Regions from separate parts of the Homo sapiens genome. Here region 2 is linked to region 1. Evidence: fine-mapped expression QTL. A gene starts in region 1. The other region holds a variant in brackets. All regions are shown on one strand. Distances are from middle to middle. Region 1 holds the start of LINC02691 (long intergenic non-protein coding RNA 2691). Region 2 overlaps LINC02691 (long intergenic non-protein coding RNA 2691).

Region 1 (5,370 bases):
GTACCCTGCATCCGCACAGGTGCCCTCCCCAGGTCCCCAGAACTCCTGCCTCTCAGGCCGGGCTGCCCCAGGGAAGGGAGCACAGCCAGGAACCCGGTCTGCAAATGAAACGCTGGTCAGAGCCTCCCCACCAGGCCACGTGGTGGGTGGCATGCAGGCTCCCTGGGCTCTTAGGCACCCCCGGTGGCATTGACAGCTGGGGAGAGAGGTGGTCTCAAGGACTATGGAGTCCTTCCTGAAAGTCTCTGCTCCTACGCAGCGGAAACGAGTGAGACTGGGAGTCAGCCCATGGCGAGGAGCTGGGGTGGGGGAACATGGGGACCCGAGACCCAGGCAAAGGCCACCAGTGCTCCCCAGGCGTGTAGCCTGAGCCTTTGGCCCCCAGAAGGGGGTGCGGTGGGGGCACCCCCTGGGCAAACCTGCAGCATAGAACAGCACAGAGGGCCGGGGCCCGGGTAGGTGGATGTGGAGAGGTGTTCCGGAGGGTCTCGGATGCTATGAAGAGATGAGAGGTGTTCAGACGCCATGAAGAGGGGGGATGCCGCCCTGTGGGTGGAGGGTGGTCTGGAAGGCCCCAGGCTGAGGGGCAGCCCTGGTGGGTGTGGGCTGGGGAAGCCTCCGGGCAGTGGCTGGCCTGGTGCCCTTGAGCTGCTCTACCCCTCATGGTACCAGGACCCTTGGCGCCCAGATGTGCTGGGAGCCTGCACCCTGCGGAGGGGGGCCAGGCCCCTCCTCCCCGCTTTGTCCTCTGCAGCCACCTTGGGCCGCCACCCTCTGACCTGCTGGGGGGTTGTCTCTGTGCGTCATCTGGGTGGCCTGAGCCCGGCTCTGATGACTTCACATGGAGCCACCTGCCAACAGAGACGCTGGCAAAGCAGCTGCTCTGGGACCTGACAGAAAAGATAAAAATGATGGAATGTTTGTTCTCTGACATGGAAAACCAGGCTCCCACATTTAGGGCAATTGGAGAAAGATCTTCCTGCTCACCTCGGAGCACAGGTGAAAGACCTGCTCTCTTGCACACCTGCTGCTCCCTGGGCCAGGCACAGCCGCCTCCCGTCTTCTGATGGTGCTGTGGCTGTGGCCTGGCTCTGCCTGCATGGAGCGTTGTGCCAGTTAGGGGGTCTCTATGGTGTCAGGGAGCTTCGGGCTCCCCTGGGCTCTGTGCACAGGCCTCTTGGTGGGGCTGGCAGGACAAAAGGAGAGGAAGAAATCGAAGTTAGTCTCAAACTGCTAGACCACAGATCCCATGGGCGGGTCATTCAATGTGGTGGGGGACAGTAGGTGGTGTGACCAAGGCCATCACACAGGGGCACCTGAGGGTGGGAACATGCGGCCAGCCTGTCCCTCAGGCCTGCCTGGGGTCCTCAACCCAGCATGGGTCAGGGAGTGCTGGCCTGCAGCCCAAGAGACGGGGACTCCACTCCTGGCCTTCTGCGTCTTTGCTTGGAAGGCTCTTATGGCTTTGTGGCCCATCCCCAAGTGCCAGCTCCTTGGGTACAGCCTCCTGTGTCAGGGTCAGTGCGGGGTCATGGCACAGGGCTGCCCTGAAGGGTGCAGAGGAGACCAAAGCCACAAGCTAGGTCTCTTGAGGGCAGCTGCCTCTCGGACCCTTCAAAATGGGTTGGGCCCTGACCCTGGTCTCGGACCAACCCTGCCCCTCCCTGCTGAGGTATAGATGGAGCTGTCAGGGACTTGGAGGCCAGCGTCTTCTCCCCCACTCCCCACTGTTGGAGGCCCCCAGCAGACTCCCTCAGTTTTCTTGCTAAGGCCTCTGCCACGCGGGGTGGTGGCTGTGCACCCTACGGCACGTGCCCTGTACAAGCCCCTCTGGGCCCCTGCTGTGGCCTTCACCGTTGGCCAAGTTCCCGCTCTGGGTCACTCTGCTGATGGCTGAGGGGGCAGGGTGTGAGGGCGTGGTCCACTCCCAGACTCCTACTCTCCCCAAAGCCCCTCCCCGACCCTGCCCTCCCGCCTCTGCAGGCAGCCTGCCGCCCCCGCCCCCACCCCAGCTGCCTCCTCCTTTCTCTGACAACCTCCTGCCTGGGGTGTCCTGGAACTGCGCCAGGGGGACCAGGTGACCTTGGACACGGCGTAGCTGCCTGGGCCACCCCCTTTCCTTGGTAATTTGCGCAGACTCCGGAGGGAGCATGAGCAGCTGAGTGCTGGGGGAGGGGCTTTCCTCTTCCTGTCTGTCATGTCCAGCCTGTGAAGAGCACGCTGGCTGAGCTGGCGAGAGGGGTGGGGGCGTCCTGGGGCTGCTTCTGCTCTGATGAAGGCACCCACTGTCACTGTCCCGGCCCTCGCTGAGTGTTCCCGGACCCGTGGGCCCGCGTCTGTGCCAGGCCTTGGGGAGCTCCAGCCTCGGAGCCTCTTCCCGTTCTCAGACCTCAGTGCGAGGAGGAAATCGGGTGAGTTGAGGTTAATGTTTCCATTAAACCTGGATGGATTTTCCCTGCGTGGAAGGAGCTGTTACGCGCCAGGGCTCTGAGCAGCATGGACGGGGCCCCAGCGCAGCCACGCTCCCGAACGAATGCCCTCCTGGGAGGGCCCGGCTGCCTGCCTGCCCCCTGTGCCTCTGCCGCCAGGCCTCGCCCTCCCTCCTCTCCTCTCTTGTGAATAAAGGGCCTCAACCCCACCTACCCGGTGTGCTGAGGGTCCTGCTATACTTAAACTGTAGTTAAAGCAAAAACAAACAAACAAAAACAAAAAAAACATGCAAAACCCCTGTGGCAACAGCTTGTCCCGTGGATATCATCTCCACTAATCCATGTCTCCTGCTCGGGGTCCTGCGGTTTCCAGGCCTGTATCTGCGGGTACTTATTTTCCATTTCCTCCCGAGAGTTTAGCCTGCTAATGAGATTTTGGTGTCTGGTATCTTGGCACATGTCTCCAAAGAGATTTATGGGGCTTCCCTCTCCTGGCCCCTCACTTGTCCTTGGCAGGAAGCTCAAGGGGTTCGATGTAATCTGCTCCAGGGCCCTGGGGAGGGGGCAGAATGTGCTGGAAGGCAGATCTGGGTGGGGTCTGCGGCCAGAAGCTGGATGTCTGCTCTGGAGGAGCCAGGCTGGTGGCGTGTAGTCTGTGGTGGCCCTGGGATAACCAGAGAGGGGTGTGGGTGGGGGGTCCCCTAGACCACCGGCCACCTCGGAGCCAGTCTACAGACTTGGTGTCTCCGCCAGCGCCAGTGATCTGAGCCGAGCGCCCCCTGCTGGTGTTTGGGCTTCCCAGTCCCACTTCACAGTGGGGGCTCCCGGCTCAGACCCACCCATCCATGCCACAGCACTCAGCCTCTGCTCAGGGGCTGGATCTGGCCGGGACCTTGGGTGCTCGGGGGCCCCATGCTCTCCAGGGACAGGGACCTTCGGCTCCACCTGCTGCCTCAGGTGGTCTCATCCATGTGGCTTCAGCCCATTTTCCAGGCAGGGGACAGAGCAGCAGTGACCACAGGGCTGTACAGACACCTGGGGCAGAAGGAGCTGTGGGCCCCTGCCTGGTCCAGAGGTTTCCAGGCCGCAAGCCTGTCCCTGGCTGCTGAACGCCGGCTGGGCTCGGCCTGGGTGGAGGAGAGGCCACAAGGCTTGGGTCAGGGAGGGCCTGACCTTGCTGTGACCTTGGGCACGTCTCCCTACTCTCAACAGAGTGGGGCTAAGAGCAGTGCTGTCGTTGGTGGGATGGAGGGAAGATGCCTCCCAGGGGGCGTTGCTGACCCATGGTGGGTAGATGCCCACCATCACCCCAGCTGCATTTCCTCCTGGGATCTGGAGACTGCTCAGAGTGAAGGTGGGTGTGACTCCCCGGGGCTGCTCGGAGTGAAGGTGGGTGTGGCTCCCTGGGGCTGCTCTGAGTGAAGGCAGGTGTGGCTCCCTGGGGCTGCTCTGAGTGAAGGCAGGTGTGGCTCCCTGGGGCAGCTCAGAGTGAAGGCGGTTGTGACTCCCCGGGGCTGCTCGGAGTGAAGGCGGTTGTGACTCCCGGGGGCAGCTCAGAGTGAAGGTGGGTGTGGCTCCCTGGGGCTGCTCTGAGTGAAAGCAGGTGTGGCTCCCTGGGGCTGCTCGGAGTGAAGGCAGGTGTGGCTCCCCGGGGCTGCTCTGAGTGAAGGCAGGTGTGACTCCCCGGGGCTGCTCTGAGTGAAGGCAGGTGTGGCTCCCTGGGGCTGCTCTGAGTGAAGGCAGGTGTGGCTCCCTGGGGCAGCTCAGAGTGAAGGCGGTTGTGACTCCCCGGGGCTGCTCGGAGTGAAGGCGGTTGTGACTCCCGGGGGCAGCTCAGAGTGAAGGCGGGTGTGGCTCCCTGGGGCTGCTCTGAGTGAAAGCAGGTGTGGCTCCCTGGGGCTGCTCGGAGTGAAGGCAGGTGTGGCTCCCCGGGGCTGCTCGGAGTGAAGGCAGGTGTGACTCCCCGGGGCAGCTCAGAGTGAAGGCAGGTGTGGCTCCCTGGGGCTGCTCTGAGTGAAGGCAGGTGTGGCTCCCGCGGGCTGCTCAGAGTGAAGGTGGGTGTGGCTCCCAGGGGCAGCTCAGAGTGAAGGCAGGTGTGGCTCCCGAGGGCTGCTCAGAGTGAAGGCGGGTGTGGCTCCCGCGGGCTGCTCAGAGTGAAGGTGGGTGTGGCTCCCAGGGGCAGCTCAGAGTGAAGGCAGGTGTGGCTCCCGCGGGCTGCTTAGAGTGAAGGCAGGTGTGGCTCCCTGGGGCTGCTCTGAGTGAAGGCAGGTGTGGCTCCCGGGGCTGCTCTGAGTGAAGGTGGGTGTGACTTGCTTCAGATCTCATTGACGTGGATCTTGGGCAAGTGGTTTTCACTCTCTGGAGCCAGTTTTCTTACCTGGGAATTGGGTTAAATCCCGGTGGCCTTGGGCTGTGGTGGAAGTTAGACAGGACAGCCACATGCCACACACCTGACAGCCTGACAGATGTGTCACTGATGGTCACTGGTGGGTTATGTGGGGCTACTCCTCTGCCTCTGACTCTAGGATCCCATTAGTTGTTTACCAAAGTAGCATGTCCACCAGGGTCCTTCTGGGTATACGGCTTGCTTCCAACTCTCTCACTGATATTTTAGGTCCGCTAACACTTGGAGAAATCTTTTGGTGTGAATTATTCTCAGCAGCTGCAGGGCACCCTGGTTCACTTTCCCGTTTCTCAAGCTCCAATGGTGCCCGACACTGTTTCCTGGGGAGGAAGCTGATGTGCCTTTAGGTGGACGCCTGTGTGAGGCTAGCCCGGGCCGAGCTGGAGCTACCAGCCTTCTGCGGGCATGCATGCCTGGCCTGCCTCAGCAAACACACGATAAATCCATTTCCCCAGGCCGCCTGCTCCCACTTCCCAGATAGCCGGGCTCATACTCACATTTATGTTTCATTTTGTCTGGCTAATATTGTCTTAGATA
Region 2 (5,370 bases), 19 kb after region 1:
TAGGTGATTGCTTTGTTCCTTGTTTCTTTCACCTGCTGTTTTGTCTGATGTGCAGCCAACCTTGATAACATTGCATCTTCCTGTATAGGGGTGTGAAATAATCTCAGTGTGTTGAGTTCTTGGTTTCTCTAGCTATAGTCCGTTGGCTTCCATGGCTCCACCATGTTCCATCATGCGAACATACAACAGGCTTCTCATCCATTCTGCTGTTGATGAACACTTGGGTGGTATCTGAATTGGCTGAGTGGCCCATGCTACTGTGAACACTCTCGCCCATGTGCCCACTTGTCCTAGGGTCCCTCCCCAGGAGTGGAATTGCCAGGTCATGAGATGTGCGCCTCTTCAACCCTTTTAGATAATGCCAATCTGTTATTGTTTCTAATTAATAGACTATTTTTTTAGTCTGGACGCGGTGGCTCACGCCTGTAATCTCAGCACTTTGAGACACCAAGCTGGGCAGATCACCTGGGGTCAGGAGTTCAAGACCAGCCTGGCCAACATGGCGAAACCCAATCTCTACTAAAAACAAAACAAAAATTAGCTGGGCATAGTGGCACATGCCTGTAATCCCAGCTACTTGGGAGGCTGAGGCAGGAGAATAGCTTGAACCTGGGAGGTGGAGGTTGCAGTGAGCCAAGATTGCGCCACTGCACTCCAGCCTGGGTGACAGAGTGAGACTCCATCTCAAAAAAAAAAAAAAAAAAAAAAGAAAAGAAAAAAAGACTATTTTTTGAGCAGTTATAGGTTTACAAAAAAAAAAAAAATTCTTCCTTGAGGGTATCCGGGCAGCTCTAGGCTCTTTATGCTACTATTCACATTATACAGTCAGTTTGTTAAGCTTCCCATAGACACAGAACCAAGTGCTGTTGGGGTTTTGGGTGGAATATTATTGAACCAAAGCAATTCAGGAAGAACTGGCATCTTCACAGGTTGTATCTTCCAATACAGGAGCATGTTTTATCTTGTTATTTGGTGTTCCTTATTTCTGTCAATACAATTTTTAGTCTCAGATAAATTTGTTAGATATATTCCTAGATGCCCAATATTCTTTGATGCTTTTAAATTACATTTTTTTACTTGTTTGTTGATGTAGAAATACAATTTGAATTTGTTTTTCCTGTTTTTGTTTGTTTGTTTGGTTGGTTTTGTCTCCTGTTGCATTTTGGACACTGTCTTTAGATTGGTTTTCTAGTTTATTCATCTTTCTTTAGCTGTATAAAATCTGCTGTTAAAACTTATGCATTGGCCGGGCATGGTGGCTCACACCTGTAATCCCAGCACTTTGGGAGGCTGAGGCGGGCGGATCATGAGGTCAGGAGATCAAGACCATCCTGGCCAACACGGTGAAACCCCGTCTCTACTAAAAAAAAAAAAAAAAAAAAAAAAAAAAAAAAATTAGCCGGGCGTGGTGGCGGGTGCCTGTAGTCCCAGCTACTCGGGAGGCTGAGGCAGGAGAATGGCGCGAACCCGGGAGGCGGAGCTTGCAGTGAGCTGAGATCGCGCCACTGCACTCCAGCTTGGGCGACAGAGCCAGACTCTGTCTCAAACAACAACAACAACAAAAAAAAAAACAACTTAGGCATTGAGTTCTAATTTTTGGTTAATTTTCAGTTTTAAATATTTTTATTTGGTTCTTTTCCAAATCTTCTCTGACATGTTTTATAGTTTTCAGTCTCCTGTGATATGTTTGAATTTTTGAATCTTTTAAACTTAGCAAGCATCGTTATTTGATGTGATCTGATCTTCTGCTTATAATTCCAAAACCTGAAGTCTTTGTGCATCTGTTTCTATTGTCTTTTGTTTTTGCTGGCTCTTGATTGTGAATTTAATTTCATTTTGTGTGTGGTTATCTTTGTGTGCTAGAGATTGTATTGAAAAATTGCTTGTAAGAATAATTTGAGCCTTAGGATGATAGTTCCTCTCCTTTCCTCTCCTCTCCTCTCCTCTCCTCTCCTGTCCCCTCCTCTCCTCTCCTCTCCTCTCCTCCCCTCTCCTCTTCTGTCCCCTCCCCTCCTCTCCTCTCCTCTCCCCTCCTCTCCTCTCCCCTCCCCTCCCCTCCCCTCTGCTCCCCTCCCCTCCCCTCCCCTCCCCTCTTCTTTTCTTTTCTTTTCTTGATGAGTTTCACTTTGTTGCCCAGGCTGGAGTGTAGTGGTGTGAGCTCAGCTAACTGTAACCTCCACCTCCCGGGTTCAAGCGATTCTCCTGCCTCAGCCTCCTGAGTAGCTGGGATTACAGGCATGTGCCACCATACCCGGCTAATTTTTGTATTTTTAGTAGAGGCAGAGTTTCACCATGTTGGCCAGGCTGGTCTCCAACTCCTGACCTCAAGTATACCAAAGTCCTGGGATTACAGGCATGAGCCACGGCACCTGGCCAATAGTACCTTTCTTTAAGGATGGTGTTGGTTTGCTTTTTGCAGGTGCCTAGTGGGGCACTACCTGTCTGGAAGTATTTTACACGAAGTTTAAGCCTTGAGATTTCCTGGAGCAGGACCTCTGAAGTCACCATCACAAATGGCAGGCCCACACAAGGACTGATTTACTTCTGACTCACCCATGGCCTTCAGGCTTAGAGTTGGGGCCTTGTCGGATTCCTCTCTCTTACCAACTCTGGGCTTTGACTCTGTTGTCCCTAATGCCATGCTGATAAATAATTAATAACTGGCTCTTCATAAAAAAAAACAGTTTTGATCTGTAGCACCTGCCAATTCCCATGGTGTAAACACTCCTGCCATGGCTGACTTCAAGTTACCAACACAACATCACTGAGTGTGGGATTGGAAAAAGATGCCCATGGCTGGCTCTTAAGAGTCCTCTGAGCCTTGCTGGTTCTCCCTCACCTGCCATTGAGGGGGCTGATGGGTGCAACAGTCATTCCTGAGGCTGCAAAGTTCTTTAAAGCAGAAGCAGCTGACTCTTGCTTATGTTTTGCAGTACTTGCTGGGCTCTCAACTCCTCCAAGGTTTTGGCCTGGTAGTGCATTCTTTGCTACCTGATTTGCTCTTTTCTGCTTTAAAGAAGATTGGAAAAAAATTTTTTTTTTGAGACAGGGTCTCACTCTGTCACCTAGGCTGATCGTGGCTCACT[G/A]CATCCTCCACCTCTCAGGCTCAAGGGATCCTCCTACCTCAGCCCCCCAAGTAGCTAAGACCACAGGTGTGCGCCACCACATTAGGCTAGGTTATTATTATTTTTTTTTTGTATTTTTGGTAGTAGAGACGGGGTTTCTCTATATTGTCCAGGCTGGTCCTGAGCTCCTGGCCACGAGTGAGCCACCCACCTTGACCTCCCAAAGTGCTGGGATTATAGGCATGGGCCACCATGCCTGGCCAATTGAAATATTTTAATCCAGCTTTTCTAGTTGTGTTCAGTGGAAGAGTTGGTCCTAGTCACTAATCTGCTACTTATGGACAGAGACATCTCCTATTTTCTGTTGTAAGGACAGGAAAAAGCAGAAAATATAGAAAAGGAAATAAAGAGCAACCATCTCTCAATAGTACTGCTGCCCAACAAGAACACTGCTGACATTTGGAAACTGTTTTCCAATTTGATTCTTATTGGAAAGCATAACAACCAGCCAGGGCCTGTGCTGCTGGAGCGGGCAGTTATGTGCAGGGAGACAGCTGGTTACGGCTGGCTCCTGGCCTCGACGGAGCTTCTCAGCCTCTTGGAGCCTCTGTCCCCTCAGCTGCTGAAGGAACACATCTCCTGCACTTCTCAAGTTGCTGCCGGTGCGAAGGTGACTCCAGATTCTGCAGTTTGGGCTCCGTAGCTGCTCAGCAAATGTCAGCAGGTCCAGAAGCAAGGCTCCTCAGCTGCAGAGTGAATGCAAATGTCCCCATTGTAAATGGCCGTGGGGCCCAGGGCTCTGCAACCTTGGATGCCCAGGATCAGACCAGCTGTCCGCCGCTTTGGAATCTGGGTTTATGGGGGACCCGGGCCTCATAAATGTCAAAGCGTGCATTCTCGGCAGTCCAGGAGTCGGAAAACGTGTCTCTGAGGGGAGCATTCCTTCCATGCACACAGCTGCCTGGCTCACGTTTTTATCCTCGAGCCATAATTAGTCCTTTCCCCTGACCCTGAATTCCTGCCCCGGCCAGAAGCATGCTGTGGCCCTGGGGCCCGCGGCTCCTGGTGGTCGGTGCCCCTTCTGCTCTCCTGCAGCTGCGGCAGGTGGAAGAGCTGTCGGGGGTGGGAAGGGGGCTTGGAGGGATAAGGATGGGCTGGGGAGGGCTCCCAAGGCAGTGGACACTGTGGGCTCTGGGGACTGCATGGCTGTGGAGGGGGCATGTGCTGTTGGGCTCCCAGCCTCTTGGGGTCCTCTCTGTGCCAAGATAGAGCCTGTTACCCTCCCTGAGCAGGTGTGAGCAGACACCTGTCCCCTGCCCTGCATGGGAAGTGAACGATCCACTAAGTGGGGAGGTCAGGGTCAGATCCCCGGCCTTCCCATGCAGGATGACTGCTCAGGCCCAGGACAGTGGGTGGTCAACAGAAACCCCATCCCTGCCCATAGAGGGTGCTTCCCAGTTCACAGTGACACAGCCTGGCCTGCTCCTCTTCCAGCCACCCAAGGCAAGACACAGAGCAGGAGGCTGAGGCTGGTGTGAGGGAAAGGGGGATGCAGCAAGGGGATACCTCAACCTTGCCCGAGCTACAGACAGGTGAGGACTTCTCCCTCACCTGGTGTTTTCCACTGCATTCTGAAGAGCAGGTGACACCCACCCCAGGGTGGATCCAGGATGGATCTCTGGGTTTCCTGCCATCTACAATGACCCTCCTCATTTCCCCTGGCTAGCTGCCCCCTAGGATGGAGAATGCATCATGGTCACTGACACTTGGCGCCCTTTTCCAGCCTCAATGGCCTGGCAGAGCCAGTGGGGACACAGCAATAATGTGGGTGGCAGTAATAACAGCAGCTGAACCACCTGAGCACCATCCTGACGAGGCATAGCCTGAGCTCTGTGAACAGTGAAGTCCATCTGGTCTCTCAGTGGCCTGAGAGTGACTCTAACTATTATCCTCATTCTCTGAAGGAGGAAAACAAGGCAAGGGGATTTAAATAATTTTTAAAGGTCAGATACCTTCACAAAGGCTGAAGTGGGAGTCAGATGATAGTGTCTGGGTGGAGACCCCATACTCTTACCCTCAACTCTGAGCCATCTGCTATACAACATCTATTTGCTGAGTGGAAGGTGTGTAGCCTGAACCATGCTCACTTCTGGTCCAGAGCTCTTTCCTCAGGGCCCTGGGACATTCACGTTTAGTGTACAGTGGTATATGTATGCTGAATTCCTACATTAGGCCAGCCACATAGTCAGCACTGATTGCTAAAAGAATAACTGAATAAGGATAAATGCTTGAGGGGATGGATACC

Evidence for each region.
Region 2: its variant is fine-mapped to the expression of LINC02691 in adrenal gland (GTEx, PIP above 0.99).

Annotation. Positions count from the first base shown.
Region 1 is chr14:104,221,406-104,226,775 of GRCh38, forward strand. LINC02691 (long intergenic non-protein coding RNA 2691) reads left to right here and starts at 2,179. Exons shown (of 3, transcript NR_146612.1): 1 at 2,179-2,411. RefSeq lists an enhancer at 1,141-2,033.
Region 2 is chr14:104,240,678-104,246,047 of GRCh38, forward strand. All of the region lies in intron 1 of LINC02691 (long intergenic non-protein coding RNA 2691), which reads left to right. Among named protein-coding and RNA genes, the nearest start is that of LINC02691, 20 kb to the left of the region's middle. RefSeq lists an enhancer at 1-4. The variant G/A (reference allele first, on the strand shown) is at 3,087.